Homo sapiens: one gene and its partner. The protein of the gene in region 1 purifies or fractionates together with the protein of each later gene. This does not show direct contact. Each region holds a gene or a part of one and is shown on either strand. Other genes may lie near its edges.

What was found. Proteins that work in one complex are often made in the same cells at the same time.
Region 2: the proteins of YBEY (region 1) and DDX11 purify together in Homo sapiens (affinity purification with mass spectrometry; 2 studies listed by BioGRID and IntAct, with this or other methods). This does not show direct contact.

The regions. Positions count from the first base shown.
Region 1 is NC_000021.9:46,289,333-46,296,357, reverse strand, and holds part of YBEY (endoribonuclease YbeY), read right to left. Parts: intron 5,025-7,025; coding exon 4,896-5,024; coding exon of another isoform or gene 4,869-4,895; exon of another isoform or gene 3,840-4,868; intron 197-3,839; coding exon 128-196; intron 1-127. UniProt on the Homo sapiens protein: Single strand-specific metallo-endoribonuclease involved in rRNA maturation.
Region 2 is NC_000012.12:31,076,835-31,083,859, forward strand, and holds part of DDX11 (ATP-dependent DNA helicase DDX11), read left to right. Parts: intron 1-1,110; exon of another isoform or gene 1,111-1,350; coding exon of another isoform or gene 1,351-1,454; intron 1,455-1,555; coding exon of another isoform or gene 1,556-1,559; coding exon 1,560-1,703; intron 1,704-6,978; coding exon 6,979-7,025. UniProt on the Homo sapiens protein: DNA-dependent ATPase and ATP-dependent DNA helicase that participates in various functions in genomic stability, including DNA replication, DNA repair and heterochromatin organization as well as in ribosomal RNA synthesis.

The DNA.
Region 1 (7,025 bases):
ACAAGGGCAGGTCTGAGGTCCAGTTCCTGCGGGGGCGGTCAAGATGGAGGGTGGGGGCTGGCAGGGGCCTGGGGGAGCCTCCTTCCCCCACGCACCCCCTCGGTAGTGGGATGGATGGGCTCCTTACCTGCTGCCACTCTGCCTCCGTGCCGTGTGTGAATCCCAGCAAGTGACAGAGTCCGTGGGTGGCCGTCACCTGTCAGAATAATTTTAAACCGGCTCAGAGGATGACCCCACAGGAACCTGCCCCTTCAGGGCCACCCCAGGGCCACAGGCTGCTCTTGGTATGTGGCTGCAGGACCCCAGGGTTGCTGTGAGACCCCTGGGCAGGAATTACAGGCACTCAGCTTCAGTTCCCTTCCATCTAAAATGGAAAGCAAGCAAGCCCCTTTGAGAGTCTTTAGTCAACGTGGATTGCTGTCTGGGCCAGCACTGTGCTGGGGAGGGGCCCCCAGGATGGAACTGCCCAGCCGCAGGAGCAATGGGCAAGGGGGGATGGAATATGAAGAAGTGGGGAGGGGTGGGTGCCACGGGGTGGTGGGGCAGTGGGGCACCGGCCAGGGGTGGCCTCCCTGCCCTAAGAGGGACGAGGCAAGCGCACAGCCCACACCCCAGGTCCAACCCCCAGTCAGGATGGGGCCTCCGGTGGCCCCTGATTTTACTGAACACTCTGGGTAGAGCTTTGGGGCACAGGCAGCACAGGGAGTGCGGGAGAGGTATGAAGGCGGAGGCGGAGGGAGGTGCAGCTGCTGGTGAGTCAGGAAGACCCACAGTCGCCATGTCCCCCTGGAGAGAGGGCTGGATTAAAGCCCACAGGGGAGGGGCACCCGGATGGAGCCCAGAGCTGGGGGAAGAGGAGGAGGAGGAGGAAGAGGAGGGAGGGCCTGTGGACCCTGAGCAGGCACAGCACCAAGGGGGTTTATGGAGCCACATGGGCCATAGGGGTAGCACTCCCCTGGGGTTTGGGTGGAGGGAAGAGGGAGGTCTGGGAGGTGGGTATCCTTGGGGCTGGCGGGAGGTGCCTGGAGACATGGAGGACAAGGCAGGGTAGATGGAGAGTGCAGCTGAGAGCCAGCCCTGAGCAGAGCTGGCCTGGCCTGTGGCTATGAGGATGGGGTCCTGGGCTGGTGGGCTGGCCCTCCCCTCAGGGTAATAGGGAGCCCCAAGGAGAGGGCTCTGGGCCCGAGGAAGAAATGCCAGGGGAAGACCAGGGAACAGAATCTTAGGTTTGGGGAAAATGGAAGCAGATGTCCACATACCCCCCCGCCCACAGTTGCTGGCCACAGAGATCCCAGGGCTGAATCTCCGGCTGGGCCACTTCCTGTCACTCTCAGAAACTCCCTCTTCCCCAGCAGGGTGTGCATGGCGGGCAAGTCCCACCCAGGTCTGGAGGGAGCAGTTGGGGCCCAGGTTCCTGTGTGGCCGTCCCATCCTTTCACACTGGGTCTGGCTGGGAAGCTCTGCCTCAAGCCACACAGATGCACTTGGATCCACAAGGGCGATTCAGGGCATGGCTGTGCAGCCAAAGGAGGCCAAGTTAAGTATGATTCACTCATACATGGCTTTTCAGAATGCTTTTCCTTTTTTTTTTTTTTTTTTGGCATCAAGCTGCTGAAACCACCTGTGCAAAAATGATAACAGTGAGAGAGGTCTGGGGTGGCTGACTCCACTGAGTCCCGGGCACGGGTCAGGCTAACCGCGGGAGGAATTTAATCTAGAGTCTAACTTGCGTGGCTGTCCCCACTGAGTCCCGGGCACGGGTCAGGCTAACCGCGGGAGGAATTTAATCTAGAGTTTAACTTGTGTGGCTGACTCCACTGAGTCCCGGGCACGGGTCAGGCTAACCGCGGGAGGAATTTAATCTAGAGTCTAACTTGCGTGGCTGTCCCCACTGAGTCCCGGGCACGGGTCAGGCTAACCGCGGGAGGAATTTAATCTAGAGTTTAACTTGTGTGGCTGTCCCCACTGAGTCCCGGGCACGGGTCAGGCTAACCGCGGGAGGAATTTAATCTAGAGTTTAACTTGCGTGGCTGACTCCACTGAGTCCCGGGCACGGGTCAGGCTAACCGCGGGAGGAATTTAATCTAGAGTCTAACTTGCGTGGCTGACTCCACTGAGTCCCGGGCACGGGTCAGGCTAACCGCGGGAGGAATTTAATCTAGAGTTTAACTTGTGTGGCTGACTCCACTGAGTCCCGGGCACAGGTCAGGCTAACCGCGGGAGGAATTTAATCTAGAGTTTAACTTGTGTGGCTGACTCCACTGAGTCCCGGGCACGGGTCAGGCTAACCGCGGGAGGAATTTAATCTAGAGTCTAACTTGTGTGGCTGACTCCACTGAGTCCCGGGCACGGGTCAGGCTAACCGCGGGAGGAATTTAATCTAGAGTCTAACTTGCGTGGCTGACTCCACTGAGTCCCGGGCACGGGTCAGGCTAACCGCGGGAGGAATTTAATCTAGAGTCTAACTTGTGTGGCTGTCCCCACTGAGTCCCGGGCACGGGTCAGGCTAACCGCGGGAGGAATTTAATCTAGAGTCTAACTTGCGTGGCTGTCCCCACTGAGTCCCGGGCATGGGTCAGGCTAACCGCGGGAGGAATTTAATCTAGAGTCTAACTTGCGTGGCTGACTCCACTGAGTCCCGGGCACGGGTCAGGCTAACCGCGGGAGGAATTTAATCTAGAGTCTAACTTGCGTGGCTGTCCCCACTGAGTCCCGGGCACGGGTCAGGCTAACCGCGGGAGGAATTTAATCTAGAGTCTAACTTGCGTGGCTGACTCCACTGAGTCCCGGGCACGGGTCAGGCTAACCGCGGGAGGAATTTAATCTAGAGTCTAACTTGTGTGGCTGTCCCCACTGAGTCCCGGGCACGGGTCAGGCTAACCGCGGGAGGAATTTAATCTAGAGTCTAACTTGTGTGGCTGACTCCACTGAGTCCCGGGCACGGGTCAGGCTAACCGCGGGAGGAATTTAATCTAGAGTCTAACTTGCGTGGCTGACTCCACTGAGTCCCGGGCACGGGTCAGGCTAACCGCGGGAGGAATTTAATCTAGAGTTTAACTTGTGTGGCTGTCCCCACTGAGTCCCGGGCACGGGTCAGGCTAACCGCGGGAGGAATTTAATCTAGAGTTTAACTTGCGTGGCTGTCCCCACTGAGTCCCGGGCACGGGTCAGGCTAACCGCGGGAGGAATTTAATCTAGAGTTTAACTTGTGTGGCTGACTCCACTGAGTCCCGGGCACGGGTCAGGCTAACCGCGGGAGGAATTTAATCTAGAGTTTAACTTGCGTGGCTGTCCCCACTGAGTCCCGGGCACAGGTCAGGCTAACCGCGGGAGGAATTTAATCTAGAGTTTAACTTGTGTGGCTGTCCCCACTGAGTCCCGGGCACGGGTCAGGCTAACCGCGGGAGGAATTTAATCTAGAGTCTAACTTGTGTGGCTGTCCCCACTGAGTCCCGGGCACGGGTCAGGCTAACCGCGGGAGGAATTTAATCTAGAGTTTAACTTGCGTGGCTGACTCCACTGAGTCCCGGGCACGGGTCAGGCTAACCGCGGGAGGAATTTAATCTAGAGTTTAACTTGTGTGGCTGACTCCACTGAGTCCCGGGCACGGGTCAGGCTAACCGCGGGAGGAATTTAATCTAGAGTCTAACTTGCGTGGCTGTCCCCACTGAGTCCCGGGCACGGGTCAGGCTAACCGCGGGAGGAATTTAATCTAGAGTTTAACTTGCGTGGCTGTCCCCACTGAGTCCCGGGCACGGGTCAGGCTAACCGCGGGAGGAATTTAATCTAGAGTTTAACTTGCGTGGCTGTCCCCACTCAGTCCCGGGCACAGGCCAAGCTAACCACGGGAGGAATTTAATCTAGAGTTTAACTTTAAATCAAGAATAGTAATCATCCCTCCCTAAAACGAATCCCCTCCTTGCTCAAGACCGAAGCCACCTCTGTGAAGCTTGTGAAGGGCCACAAGATTAGGATGATGGGAGGGGCCTGAATTCTGCTCAGATGTAGGTGTCCTGAGGAGAACCAGCCCGCAGGCCTTGCTTCCCCAGCTTGCCCTGCTGTAATTCCCTACTGCTCAGGACTCACGCAGCCAGAGGTCACGAGATTTGTGACCGCCCCAATTGCTCCCCAATAAGATAACGTCAATAGTACAACCTAAGAATGGTCTTTTGGGATGTTTTTCAGACTTTTGAGTTCTGGCAACCTACAGACTCCACCTGGACCTGAGACTCATGACTCAGCTGATCCCGTGGCTCCACGCAGAGGCGGACTCAGGGGACAAAAATCGTTGACACCCCATGGTCCGTCTGCAGCCGATCAGCAGCAGGCATTCCCTAGCCCCTGCCTGCCAAATTGCCTGTAGAAACTGTAGCCTCTGAGTTCTCTGGGAGATTGAGTTGAATAATAACTCCAGCCTTTCTGCTTGGCTAGCTCTGTGTTAAACTCTTTCTCTACTGCAATACCACAATTGCAGTGAATTGGTTTTGTCTGTGCAGTGGGCAGGAAGAACCCATAGGTGGATTACACTGAGGAGAAACAGATCTGGAAGGTGGTGGAGGCTCCAACTTCTGTACTTCTGGCAGCTCAGAAAGAAGCTGATTCAGCAGGTCTGTGTTAGCTCAACATAGTCTGCTCTACTCCAGAGATAAAAGCTGAGAAGGCTTCTCTGGGAGCTTCTGTGTTTTCACAGCGTGTTCTCTCCCTCCTTCAACTGTGGCATGGGGCATGCAGTCCCTACCCAGCCTGGGTGCTCCTCACACCCTGCTTACAGGTTCTTCCCCCAGTAGCCCTTACGGTACCCACGGACACACATGGATGCAGGGTTGTGATCTTGACCCCTTTGCAAGGCCCATGTTCCATGAGCCAGGTTATATGATTTCAGCATCCCCGCTTACAGTCAGGACGTCATTGTAATCTTCATTTTCTTTACACTGATGGAAGATATACTCCACTCCTAGGAAAATGTCTCCCAAATTGTAGTCATCTGGAAAATCAGGCTGGGGAAATTCACCTGCTTTCAGATGCTAAAAAATGAGGAAATGTAGACTTAGAGAACAGGAAACGTAACCCAACCACAGGTTGACAGGTTTCATCCTGGTTAATCCCAAGGCAAATAAGCACTTATCTCTGAGCCAAATCACTTTTTTTTTTTTTTTTTTTGAGACGGAGTTTCACTCTTGTTGCCCAGGCTGCAGTGGAATGGCGCGATCTCGGCTCACTGCAACCTCTGCCTCCCGGGTTCAAGTGATTCTCCTGTCTCAGCCTCCTGAGTAGCTGGGATTACAGGTGCATGCCACCGTGCCCAGCTAATTTTTGTATTTCTTTTTTTTTTTTTTTTCCTGAGACAGAGTTTCCCTCTTGTTGCCCAGGCTGGAGTGTCCGCCTCCTGGGTTCAAGCAATTCTCCTGCCTCAGCCTCCCGAGTAGCTGGGACTACAGGCATGCGCCACCACGCCCGGCTAATTTTGTATTTTTAGTAGAGACTGGGTTTCTCCGTGTTGGTCAGGCTGGTCTCAAACTCCCAACCTCAGGTGATCCACCCGCCTTGGCCTCCGAAAGTGCTGGGATTACAGGCGTGAGCCACCGCGTCTGGCCTAATTTTTGTATTTTTTAGTAGAGATGGGGTTTCATCATATGGGTCAGGCTGGTCTCGAACTCCTGACCTCAGGTGATCTGCCTGCCTCAGCCTCCCAGAGTGCTGGGATTACAGGCGTGAGCCACTGTGCCAGCCACCCAAATCACTCTTAAGATGCATGTCTCAGGCCAGAGTGGCAGCTGGGCCTGTGGCGGGTGGGTTGCCCAGCCAACCGTACACAAGTGCCCTAAATTGTTTCCATTGTGAAAATTGTCAGAATAGCCAGGCGTGGTGGCTCACAGCTGTAATCCCAGCACTTTGGGAGGCCGAGGCGGGCAGATCAAGAGGTCAGGGGTTTGACACCAGCCTGACCAACATGGTGAAACCCCATCTCTACTAAAAATACAAAAATTAGCCAGGTGTGATGGCACATGCCTGTAACCCCAGCTACTCGGGAGGCTGAGGCAGGAGAATCGCTTGAACCTGGGAGGCGGAGGTTGCAGTGAGCCCCTAGACTGCGCCATTGCACTTCAGCCTGGCTGACAGAGCAAGACTCCGTCTCAAAAAAAAAAAGGAATTTGTCAGAATAAAAATGGAGCCATTAGGGTTATACAAACAAACCAAAAAACCTGACAAATAGAGCTGGGGAAAGCTATGAAGAGAGGATTCTCATACTTCCATGCCTGATAACAAAAACTGTCACTAAAGATGGCAAAAACTGCAACAAAGGCTATGACAACCTTACACACATACAAAACTGCAACCTTGCACAAAGGCTATGACAACCTTACACACACACACGAAACTGCAACCTTGCACAAAGGCTATGACAACCTTACACACACACAAAACTGCAACCTTGCACAAAGGCTATGACAACCTTACACGCACACAGAAACTTCTGCAAGGATAATCTGCCCAGCAACTGCCTGTCTAACCTTGGACGGACATTAATCTTGTTATTGATCTTTGCAACCAAGGATCATTATCTCAAAACAATTATGTTTTTTTCCTTTAAAAACCTTTGCCAGGCGGGGCTCAGTGGCTCACGCCTGTAATCCCAGCACTTTGGAAGGCAGAGGCGGGTAGATCACCTGAGGTCAGGAGTTCTAGACCAGCTTGGCCAACATGGTGAAACCCCAACTTTACTAAAAATACAAAAAAAAAAAAATTAGCCAGATGTGGTGGTGGGCGCCTGTAATCCCAGCTACTCGGGAGGCTGAAGCAGGAGAATCGCTTGGACCTGAGAGGTGGAGGTTGCAGTGAGCCGAGATTGTGCCATTGCACTCCAGCCTGGGTGACAGAGCAAGCCTCCGTCTCAAAAAAAAAAAAAAAAACAAAACCCTTGCCTTCCTTTACCTCCCTGAATATGCGAATATCCACACAGTCTACTATGGCATGTGGCATGTATTTTCACTGCAATGCTCTATCCCAAATAAACATCCTTTTCT
Region 2 (7,025 bases), on another chromosome or scaffold:
TGTTTTTCTTTTTTCATTTTTTCTTGTCCCCAGAATGTCTAACAAAACAGCCAAATATACCTCTGTGAAGACAGAGGGTAAAATAATGCTAGTTCTGTGAGTTCTCTCTTCTTGTGCAAATCCATAAACTGCCACCAATCTGTAGTCATTTTAATTGCCCCTAAACCGAAGAGCATCGTGGCAACTACCTTTCCCCTCGTAAATAGAGTGACACTATCACTAGTCTTATTGAGGCCAAAGTTATAAAGATGGGCTCTCGATCTACTAATATTAGTAAAATGGGTTTGGGACTTACTAACATTTGTGCTTAGAAGAGACAGACCTGGCAAAGAGCTTGGAGAAGTGAGTTCCAAAGAGAGAGGTGTGGGAACCAGGATGGAAGAGTCAGGCCTCCAGATAGCGTTTACTTCTCCTTTCTTCCTTGAATCACTGTCTCAGAGATAATTAGGTTCAGGAGAGGAGAAAAAAAAAGATGACGTCAACGTGGAGCAGAGTTTTTCTTAGACCTTAGCCTAGCAAGGAAAGAGAAATGCCTGGTCTCAGTACTGGGAAGCTGTTCCAGCCAGAGCCCCGTGGCTGTGAAGAGAGCTCTCCTGTCTGGAACCAAACAGAAAGCTCATAGGTCTAGAGGCCAGAAAAGTTAGTAGGTGGTGGCTCTGTTCGGTGCTGGAAATGGAGGCCAGGATGAACTAAGAAGCAAACTAAAGATACTTGTAAGATAAGGACGTGTAGGCCGGGTGCGGTGGCTCACGCCTGTAATCCCAGCACTTCGGGAGGCCAAGGCGGGCGGATCACGAGGTCAGGAGATCGAGACCATCCTGGCTAACACGGTGAAACCCCGTCTCTACCAAAAAAAAAAATTAGCTGGGCGTGGTGGCGGGCACCTGTAGTCCCAGCTACTCGGGAGGCTGAGGCAGGAGAATGGTGTGAACCCGGGAGGCGGAGCGTGCAGTGAGCCGAGATTGCGCCACTGCACTCCAGCCTGGGCGACAGAGTGAGACTCTGTCTCGAAAAAAAAAAAAAAAAAGATAGGGACGTGTATGTTAACTTGCGCTATCCAAACAACAAGCTGTGCTTATGGTCCTCTGCCTGTGCGTCATGATTTTCCAGGACTTCACAACGGGATAAAGTGAAGTAGCTTCGGCTTGTGAATGTGCATTGCAGAGACGTGGGAGAAGAAAGCTGCAAAAGTCATTATAAGCAACACCCTTGATCTTAGGGGTGCTGGTCTGTGAGAAGAGAGCTCTAAGCCTTTTGTAGAGGCATTAGAAAGGTATCGGAGCCACGGTGAAATGCAGGGGAGATTGGGTTTAGGGGCTTTCCTGGTCTGCATTCTGCTACAGCCGTTAAATGCCGCTAGATGGAGTGCGTGATTCTGGTATGGCCTCACGTGGACCTGCTGCGAAGGATGGAGAGAACATGGTCTCTGCTTCCCAGAAAAAAGGAGAAATTTGGTAATAAGTGTGGAGACTGCTCTTAAATAATGCTCCAGATTTCAAGCCACTTCTTCCTGGACCATGAGAGAGCTCCCTAATGTTGTATTTATTTTTCCTAGGTCCATGGCTAATGAAACACAGAAGGTTGGTGCCATCCATTTTCCTTTTCCCTTCACACCCTATTCCATCCAGGAAGACTTCATGGCAGAGCTGTACCGGGTTTTGGAGGCTGGCAAGATTGGGATATTTGAGAGTCCAACTGGCACTGTGAGTATGAACAGTGAGAGATACTGAAAAGGACAACTTAACAGCAGCCGTACTAGCTTTTCCTGTTTGCCTATCCAGAGATTTTCATAGTTTGAAGTTGGGCAGAGTAGTCTCTGTTTATCTGAGTAATAGTCACTTCCTCTATTAAAGTCTTTTTTTTTTTTTTTTGAGACGGAGTCTCGCTGTGTCGCCCAGGCCAGAGTGCAGTGGGACGATCTCGGCTCACTGCAAGCTCCGCCTCCCGGGTTCACGCCATTCTCCTGCCTCAGCCTCTTGAGTTGCTGGGACTACAGGTGCCCGCCGCCACGCCCGGCTAATTTTTTGTAGTTTTAATAGAGACAGGGTTTCACCGTGTTAGCCAGGATGATCTCAGTCTTCTGACCTCGTGATCCGCCCGCTTCGGCCTCCCAAAGTGCTAGGATTACAGGCATGAGTCACCGTGCCCGGCCTAAAGTCTTAAACATAGCTCTGTGGTCTGAGAAAAATTAGGCTGAAGTCATTGGTGCCTACCTATTACGGTAGATGAGACGGCTTTCTTACCAACTCTTTTCCCTCCCGTTCCCCATCCTTCAAATATAATTCTAAGTTTTAGTCTCTGCTGAGTGAACCAGTGTGTTATGATTATGTTTTGAACATAATTTTGTCTTGAACAATATGTCTTAATATTCTGTTTTTTCTAGTTAATAATTGCCCTTTTAAAGTTAGTTTAGTTTTTAATATACCTATGCCAGTTCCTCCCACATCATCCAGTGGCCTCTCAATATGATTTTCCATACAGATAACTCCTGTCTTAGTCGGCCAGGACTGCCATAGTAAAATACCATAGACTGGGTGACTTAACAGGAATTTATTTTCTCACCATTCTGGAGGCTGGAAAGTTGAAGATCCAGATTCTGGCAGGGTTCTGGTTCTGGGGAGGGGGTCTCTTCCTGGCTTGCAGATGGCTGCGTTCTTACTGTGGAGCAAGAAAAGACGAGGAGGAGAAAAACAAATCTTTGGTGTCTCTTTCTCTTTTATGAGGACAAGGGCTGCTCCCTTATGGCTGCTCCGTTATGACCTCCTTTACCCTTGAAGGCCAGATCTGTAGTAGAGTCACATGGCGGGGTTAGGATTTCAACATATGTTTGTTTGTTAAGATGGGCAGTCTCACTATGTGGCCCAGGCTGGTCTCGAACTCAAGCGATCCTCCCCTCTCAGCCTCCCAAGTACCTGGTGGCTGGCAAGATCCAAGATTACTGGTGCACACCACCATACACAGCTTCTTTTGTTTTGTTTTTGTTCTTTAAAAACATTTTTTTAACATGCATTTTGGTGGGGATACAATTCAGTCCACAGCAGTGACCAATTCCATTTTTACCTTGGAGCCCTCCTGGAATCCTCCATCCTTTCCCTGTCATTTGAATTAGTTGCTCCTCAGACTGACTTGACAGATTTCAGCATGAGTGTTAATGGGGACAGACGGCCGCACCCACACCACATCAGGGTATACGTCCGTTTGGAGGCTTTCCTCAAACGTCTGGCAGCCCTGGACTGCCTGTGTATGCTGAAGAACAGGGCACAGAAAGGCTGAGTCTGCAGGGCACTGGCTGTGGCTGCCAGGCTGGGCTCCTTTGTTGGGGGCCTCCAGTTGCCAGCACATCTGTGGGATTTTCCCTAGAGTCTTCAGTCTCTCCAGAGCAGGTGCCTCTGAGCCCTGGCCCAGCAGGTACAGACGCTGAAGCCCAATAGCCGGTCTTCCGGGAGGTGGTCTGGGGAAGGGGATCCAGGTGGAGAGTCCCCCTCAGTGCCTGCTTTCAGCCTGGCCCTCCTCCCCCTCCCTCTTGCCTCCTCAATCTGCCGGTTGCCTCCAGGGCTCTCCTAGCTCAGCTTCCACTTAGAGCCCACTTCCTGTCTTCTGCAAGGAGCAGGAGCAGGGATTGCAACCTGAGAATCTAATTGTTCTTAAAAAGAATTTCAACCCGTCCCTTTGTTTTCAGTGGCCTGCTGTGTTCCTACCACTTCCTGAGTCTTTCTGAGAATGAGTGGGGGAGATCTCTGGGGACACTTGGGCTTGAGTGTCTCTGCCGAAATCACTTCCATGTCTCTGCCTTCTTTCCCTCTCTCCTAAAACATATTACTCCTTCCACTTTCTTTTTGTGGGTGTAAGCCTCCATATTACTTTGGTTAATTTTAGTGTGCTTTGGAACACAGATGAGTGCATGTTCATTCTGCCTTGTTTAATTTTAGAGACAGGGTGTTGCTCTGTTGCCCAGGGCCGAGTGCAGTGTTAAGATCATGGTTTACTGCAGCCTCAACCTTCTGGCAACAAGTGATCTTCCCACGTCAGCCTCCTGAGCAGCTGGGACTACAGGTGTGCACCATCACACCTAGCTAATTTTTTAATTTGTAGAAATGAGATCTCACTATGCTGCTCAGGCCGGTGGTCTTAAACCCCTAGGCTCAAGCAATCCTCCCTCCTTGGCCTCCCATAGTGCTGAGATTACAGGCATGAGCCACTGTACCTGACCCCTTTCACCTTGTTTAGCCTGACAACCCATCTTCTCCCTCTCAGGTCTTTCCATCTCAGTCTTCTGCACTCCAGGCTTCTGCGTCTTCTTCCTCTGCTCAGCCTTTAATTGTCGATGTTTCTGGTTCTATAGCTTCATCTTCTTGTGTGCAGTCTCTGTGAATGTACCCTGTGGCTTTATTACCTTTGACATTCTTCTGTCTTCTAAATCATCTCCTGAATAGAGTGTTTTCTCCTGTCCTGGGTGTCCCGCAGCCCATAGAAGCAGCCATGCTGTGGGACACCCTGAGTGGGGTTTGTGTTACCTGTTGTGCCTACCATGCCCTTCCCCGCCGTGGATGCACAGGTGCCCCACCTTAGCTGCCCCAGATGCTGTTTATCCTTGATAGTCACCTTTTAAGCCTTATACAGGTCTATCAAGTTGAGTCACCATTACCACTTGGTGTGTGCTGTGCCTTGTGTAATACTGCAGTTCCGGGAGTCATCCAACCTGGAATGCATGCTTTGCGGGGATCTATGATGCCCTCGAATTGTATGTTACATGTGAACCTGTGAGCATTTTCTAGGGGCTCTGCACCTTTGTGTCCTCAGCTCTGAGCCCCATGCTTGCTGCAACCAGCAGGTGTTCAGAGTGAATGAATTTGCTTATCTTGGCATAAATCATGTAACTGTTGATGATACCCCAGGAAGGTGAGCCTTTGGTTATAAATCCTTTTAACATTTTCCAGTCTAAAAGTTTTGTGGTCTTATTACACGATGTAGAAAACAGTGGGCCTCAGTTATTCTTTTGCTGTTGTGCCGGAGTATACCACGGTTGTTTTTGAAAGATAACTTTGACCATACCCTTAGGAACTTCCTCAGCTCACTTTCAAATGGAGGGCACTGGCTTTCTAACCATTGTGTCTCCCAGCCCAGTGACAGCTGAAGCTGACTGCTTCCGATATCACAGACAGCACAGAAGAGCCGCCCTCCAGGTGCTGCTGGGAAATGCTGCCTGGAACTCTTTGCCATTTACTTTCTATCAAAAGCTGAGGGAAATGGTACATATGGGGCTTTCCTAAAAATATGGGATCCATCCATTTGTCAACAATGTCATTCTATCCTATCCCAGGGCCTTTCAAGATTTTGATGAAAACTAATAGATCCCATATTCCAGAATAATGCTATTAATAATTTTATTATTATTACTTAATGATAGCAAAAAGTTAGCTAACTCCAACCGCTCACTTGTTATTTGCCAGGTAATCCTCTAATCCAGAGGATTTGGCCTTTTGTGTGTGTTAATGTCCTGCTTGCACCAGCTCTATGAGGAAGGTGCCGCTGTTGTCATTTCCATTTCTGCACTCGTGGAAACAAGCGTAGTGAGGCCAGCCTGAGCCACAGAGCTGCAGGTGGGGGAGACAGCTGGAACCCTGGCACCTGGCTGTGGAGTTTGAGACTCTGACTCCTGCGCCGCGCTGCTGCCCCAACCGTAGTCATACGAGGTGTTTCACCCCGCCCTGGATACTCTGAGATCCCCTCTGGGTTCAGCAGGCTCAGAGAGCTGACTGCCTGGAGCAGAAGGCATGGGGTCCTCCAGAGACTCCCCTGAGCTGAGTTCCCCTGTGGACACCAGGGCCGCCTCCTTGTGGCGCTCCCTGAAGGGTCCTCTCTGGAAGAACTGTATTGGTTCCCTGGGGCTGCTAGAGGAAAGCTTCACAAACTGGGGCTTAAACAACAGAAACTGACATCCCACAGCGCTGGAGGCTGGAGTCCGAGATCAAGGTGTCAGCATGCTTGGTCCCTTCTGAGGGTCGTGAGGGAAAGATCTCTTCAGGCCCCTTTCCTTGGCTTATAGGTGGCGTGTTCTCCTTGGGTATCATCACATCGCCTGCCTTCTGTGCATGTCTGCATCCACGTGTCCCCTTTCCAATAAGGATATTAGCCCTTTAGGCTGGGTCCCGTCCTAGTAGTCTCATCTTAACTAATTACATTTGCGACAGTCCTATTTCCAGATCAGGCCACATTCTGAGATGCTGGGGGTTAGGATTTCAACACAGGAATTTGGAGGAATACAACTCAATCAGGCTTATGGAAAATTCTGGTCTTAAGTCAAGGGTAGTGTTCTCCAGTCTGTATATGGAGGCGCACACCTATGGTCCCAGCCACTTGGGAGGCTGAGGCCAGAGAACTGTGTGAGCCCAGGAGTTCCATACCAGCCTGGGCAACATAGCAAGACCTCCTCTCAAAAACAGACAGAGTGGTGTCTTCCAGAGTGATTAGTTTGCTTAAAAAAAAAAAAACAAAACAAAACACAAACCGTAAGCACTGGCGCTCATGACTGATCATCCTGTATCCACGCACGAGCTGCACGAAGGCCGCGCGGTCACTCTGGCTCCCTGTTGGCGAGTACCTGGGATTTCTTGCTCAGCATTTTGGGGCCTTAATTCTTTTAGGGGACTTTTTGTCTAATGTCTCCCCTTCTTCTAATTATGTGCGATATTTACATAGAATCTGATAAACTGCTTCAAATTTGTTTTCAGAACAGTGAGCTGGATAATTAAAGAAGCTTTTTCCTGCTTCTTGGGCCCAGTTTCCATTTCTTTCTTTTTTCTGTTTTTCCTGGCTATTCTAGTGCTAATTTCCTTCCTTTCCTTTCCTAGGCTGGTCTTAGAGCATCCTCTCCTATGTACAGCCAGACCTTCTTTCAAGCTTTTATTAAAATGGGGAAAGGTCATTTGGGAGGCTTTGTTGTTTTCCTGTTTCTAAAGATCATTTTTCTTCCTGCAGGGGAAGTCCTTAAGTCTTATTTGTGGGGCCCTCTCTTGGCTCCGTGA